2 separate regions of the Homo sapiens genome follow, and region 1 is linked to region 2. A link means that fine-mapping ties the variant in region 2 to the expression of a gene that starts in the linked region. Tissue or cell type: whole blood. Region 2 holds a variant in brackets; the other region holds the start of a gene. All regions are shown on one strand. Distances are from middle to middle.

What was found. PIP is the estimated chance that this variant, and not a neighbour inherited with it, causes the effect.
Region 1: PLVAP starts here. The variant in region 2 is fine-mapped to the expression of PLVAP in whole blood (TOPMed, PIP above 0.99).

What each region holds. Positions count from the first base shown.
Region 1 is chr19:17,376,071-17,378,752 of GRCh38, reverse strand. PLVAP (plasmalemma vesicle associated protein) reads left to right here and starts at 1,411. Exons shown (of 6, transcript NM_031310.3): 1 at 1,411-1,833. The coding sequence starts at 1,465.
Region 2 is chr19:17,430,820-17,433,501 of GRCh38, reverse strand. No RefSeq gene overlaps it. Among named protein-coding and RNA genes, the nearest start is that of MVB12A, 12 kb to the right of the region's middle. The variant G/C (reference allele first, on the strand shown) is at 1,249.

The DNA of each region.
Region 1 (2,682 bases), 55 kb after region 2:
CCAAGCAGCTGGGATTACAGGTGCTCGCCACCACACACGGCTAATTTTTGTATTTTTAGTGGAGATGGGGTTTCACCATATTGGCCAGGCTGGTCTCGCACTCCTGACCTCAGGTGATCCGCCTGCCTCAGCCTCACAAAGTGCTGAGATTACAGGTGTGAGCCACTATGCCCGGCCGCCCATGGGGTTTTGAGTGTCGGGGGAGGAATCTCAGTCCCACGTATCCACCACTTGTCATTCACCATCTCACGGAGCCCCCAGCAGTGCCTCCAGCAGGAAATGATCCTAATCATAACAACAGCCACAGAGTGACGAGGCACTGGGTATACCCCGTCTCACAAAGGGGAAAAGGGAGGCACAGACATGCGAGGCCTCTTGCCCGAGCTCTCCCGGGACAAAGCCAGCTCTTCCCCGCTCCAAGTTCATTATTCCTTGTGCTGCAGTTTCCTGGAGCATTTACTGAGCATCTAAGTGAACAGGGCACTGGGGGCAATGACAGAGCTTGGGGAGCCAGCGCCACCGCCATCCATGGCTCAGCCCTCCGTGACGCCCTCCTATGCAATTACTAATCACCTACTGCTTCTCCATCCCTAGGCTAGCTAAGAGTTTCACACTTTTTCTGTTTTTTTTTTTTTTTGAAACAGAGTCTTGCTCTATACCCCAGGCTGGAGTGCAATGGCACGATCTCTGCTCACCGCAACCTCCGACTCCTGGGTTCAAGCGATTCTCCTGCCTCAGCCTCCTGGGTAGCTGGAATTACAGGCGAGCACCACCACACCTGGCTAAGTTTTGTATTTTTAGTAGAGACGGGGGGTTTCACCACGGTGACCGGGTTGGTCTCAAACTTCTGACCTCAGGTGATCCGTCCGCCTCAGCCTCCCAAAGTGCTGGGATTATAGGCGTGAGCCACCGTGCCTGGCACATTTCCCACGTTTTGTGGCACTTAATCAGCACCGCCCTGGTGAAGTGGGTGCACGTCTGTAGCCAGCCTGTCTTGAGGTAAGTCAAGTTCGCTGAACTAACAGCGTGAGACCCCGAGGCAACCCCTTCTCCTCCCTGTGCCTCAGTTTCCTCCGCCACACAAGGGAGACAGCAACAGACCTGGCATGATTCAGCGACCTAATCACAGCAGGTACTGAGAACAGCACCCGCCAGCAAGTAAAGGCGAACGCGAGGCTCGAAGAGGCCAGGAATGCCTGACCAGCCAGCCAGCGCCCCACCCAGCATTAATCAGAGGGGTCCAGCCGGTGCCCTGGCTCTGGGCCCCCAGCCCCACCCCCGCCTTCTCACAGCCAGAGTGGGAGTGTTGTGATAACCCGCAGCCCCCGTTTCCTCCGGGCCAGGAAGGAGCCAGGCAGAGGAAGTATTAAGAGGAGTAATATAAGCACTCCCCCCTGCGAGGCGGGGGCCAGAGCAGGCCTGGTGGTGAGCAGGGACGGTGCACCGGACGGCGGGATCGAGCAAATGGGTCTGGCCATGGAGCACGGAGGGTCCTACGCTCGGGCGGGGGGCAGCTCTCGGGGCTGCTGGTATTACCTGCGCTACTTCTTCCTCTTCGTCTCCCTCATCCAATTCCTCATCATCCTGGGGCTCGTGCTCTTCATGGTCTATGGCAACGTGCACGTGAGCACAGAGTCCAACCTGCAGGCCACCGAGCGCCGAGCCGAGGGCCTATACAGTCAGCTCCTAGGGCTCACGGCCTCCCAGTCCAACTTGACCAAGGAGCTCAACTTCACCACCCGCGCCAAGGATGCCATCATGCAGATGTGGCTGAATGCTCGCCGCGACCTGGACCGCATCAATGCCAGCTTCCGCCAGTGCCAGGGTGACCGGGTAAGGCTGTGGGCAGGACACTCGCCCTGGGGACCCTGAGCAAGCCCCCTCACCTCTCTGAGCCTGAGTTTCCTCATCCAAGAGAGGGGGACGATCACAGGACCAATGCTCTCTTTTCTTATGAGACAGAGTCTCGCTCCGTCTCCCAGGCTGGAGTGCAGTGGTGCAATCTCGGCTCACTGCAACCTCTGCCTCCTGGGTTGGAGTGATTCTCCTGCCTCAGCCTCCCGAGTAGCTGGGATTACAGGCATGTGCCATCATAACCGGCTCATTTTTGTATTTTTAGTAGAGATGGGGTTTCACCATGTTGGCCAGGCTGGTCTCAAACTCCTGACCTCAAGTGATACGCCTGCCTTGGCCTCCCAAATTGTTGGGATTACAAGCGTGAGCCACTGCACCCGGCCGATAGATTTTTTTTTTTTCCTTAAGAGACAGGGTCTCCATGTGTATCCTGGGCTGGATGGAGTGCAATTGCTATCACAGCTCACTGCAACCTCAATCTCCTGGACTCAAGTGATCCTCTTGCCTCAGCCTCCTGAGTAGCTGGGACTACAGGCGTGCACCACCACACCCAGCTAATATGTTTATATTTAGCAGAGATGAGGTCTCACTATGTTGCCCAGGCTAGTCTCGAACTCCTGGGCTCAAGCAATCCTCTCACCCCAGCCTCCCAAACTGCTGGGATTACAGGTGTGGGGCACTGCGTCCAGCTAAATTTTTTTTATTTCTTTTCTTTTTTTTGGAGGCAGGGTCTCACTCTGTCACCCAGGCTGGAGCACAGTGATGTGAGCATAGCTCACTGAAGCCTTGACATCCTGGGCTCCAGCAATCCTCCTGCCTCAGCCTTTT
Region 2 (2,682 bases):
AAGGCTGGTCCTGGGGCTGCAGCCAAAACCTCCAGACTCCAGGCACCTGATATGGGTTTGGCGTGCGGCTTTCAGAGTGTTCCGGGAGCTGGGCAGACCTGCCTTAAGGAACAGTAATGCAAACTCAGTTTCGTTCTTTACAAACGGAGGTGATCTCCCCTACCCAACAAGCCATAGGCACAAGGCCCCAGTCGAAAAGGGTAGAAATGTCTCCATTAATTCCACAGGCCTCGCAAACACAAGCTCTGTCAGCATTCTGGTATGTTCTAGGGTGTGGACAGTATCTGTCAAAGATGTTCTCTTGCAAGAGGATCACCTGAGGCCAGGAGTTCAAGACCAGCCTGGGCAACATAGGGAGACTCCAGCTCTACAAAAAAATTAAAAATTAGCCAGGCATGGTGGTGCACACCTGTGGTCCCAGCTACTTGAGAGGCTGAGGCAAGAAGATCAGCAGTGATTGAACCACTACGATCCAGCCTGGGCAACAGAGCAAGACCCTATCTGTTTAAAAGAAAAGTAGGCAGGGCACAGTGGCTCACTCCTATAATCCTAGCACTTTGGGAGGCCAAGGCAGTCGGATTGCTTGAGGCTAGGAGTTCAAGACCAGCCTGGCCAACATGGCAAAACCCCATCTCTACTAAAAATACAAAAATTAGCTGGTCATGGCCAGGCGCTGTGGCTCACACCTGTAATCCCAACACTTTGGGAGGCTGAACCGGGCAGATCACTTGAAGTCGGGAGTTCAAGACCAGCCTGGCCAACAAGGTGAAACACCGTCTCTACTAAAAATACAAAGAAAGAAAGAAAGAGAGAGAGAGAGGGAGGGAGGGAGGGAGGAAGGAAAAGAAAGGAAAGAAAAGGAAAAAAGAGATGAAAGAAAGGAAAGGAAAGAAAGGAAAGGAAGAAAGAAAGGAAGAAAGGAAGAAATTAGGCTGGGCGCCGTGGCTCACGCCTGTAATCCCAGCACTTGTGGGAGGCTGAGGCGGGCAGATCACGAGGTCAGGAGATTGAGACCATCCTGGCTAATGCGGTGAAACCTCATCTCTACTAAATACACACACACACACAAATTAGCTGGCCATGGTGGCGGACGCCTGTAGTCCCAGCTACTTGAGAGGCTGAGGCAGGAGAATGGCATGAACCCAAAAGGCGGAGCTTGCAGTGAGCCAAGATTGCGCCACTGCACTCCAGCCTGGGCGACAGAGCGAGACTCCATGTCAAAAAAAAAAGAAATTAGCCGGGGGTGGT[G/C]GTGGGCGCCTGTAGTCCCAGCTACTCAGGAGGCTGAGGCAGGAGAATCACTTGAACCCCAGAGATGGAAGTTGCAGGGAACCACAATCACACCACTGCACTCCAGACTGGGTGACAGAGGGAGACTCTGTCTTGGAAAAAAAAAAAAATACTATAGAGACTGGGGTCTCCCTATGTTGCCCAGGCTGGCCTCAAACTCCTGGACTCAAGTGATCCTCCCACCTCAGCTTCCCAAAGTGATGGGATTACAGGGCTGAGCCACAGAGCCCAGCCCCTCTGCCACTTTTGAATACAGGAAGTATAGGGTTTGCCACTAGCAGAGGCCACTCACGGGGAGTCACATCATCCATTCTGCCTGGATGTCAGGCTGCAGAAACCTTCCACCTTCAAAGGCCTGTCAGAGTCAAGAGGTGTTTCTTCAAGAGTCATCAGGGGCAGCTGAGAGACACGGGTCCTATGCATTCTCCCTTACACGTATCCCATGAGATGAGGAATGTTGAGGTTCCCATTGTAAAGATGGAGAAACTGAGGCGCAGAGAAGTTTAAGCCGCAGCTCAAGGTCAGCAGCTATTGAGTAGAGGAGCTGGGATCACGTCTATCCAGAAATGCCACTCTCAGTACCCATGCCCCTGTGGAGCCTGGGAGTAAGCAATAGGAGAGAAACCCACCTGGGCAACATAGCAAGACCCCATCTCTACAAAAGTAAAAATGTAGCCAAGTGTGGTGGCACACACCTATAGTTCCAGCTACTAGGGAGACTGAGATGGGAGGATAGATTGTGCCCAGGAGGTCAAGGCTGCGGTGAGCCATGATTGCACCACCGCACTCCAGCTTGGGTAACAGAGTGAGACCTTGTCTCAAGAAAAGAGAAATGGCCAGGCATGGTGGCTCACACCTGTAATCCCAGCACTTTGGGAGGTCAATGTGAGCAGATCGCTTGAGGTCAGCTGTTCCAGACCAGCCTGACCAACACAGTAAAACCTCATATCTACTAAAAATACAAAAATTAGGCCAGCATGTTGGCTCATGCCTGTAATCCCAGAACTTTGGGAGACCGAGGCGGGTGGATCACTTGAGGCCAGGAGTTCAAGATCAGCCTGGCCAACGTGGTGAAACCCCATCTCTACTAAAAATACAGAAATAAGGACCGGGCACGGTGGCTCACACCTGTAATCCCAACACTTTGGGAGGCCGAGGTGGGCGGATCACTTGAGGTCAGGAGTTCGAGACCAGCCTGACCAACATGGTGAAACCCCATCTCTACCAAAAATACAAAAATTAGCCGAGCGTGGTGGTGGGCGCCTGTAATCCCAGCTACTAGGGAGGCTGAGGCAGGAGAATCGCTTGAACCCAGGAGGCAGAGGTTGCAGTGAGCTGAGACTGCACCATCACACTCCAGCCTGGGCAACAAGAATGAAACTCCATCTCAAAAAC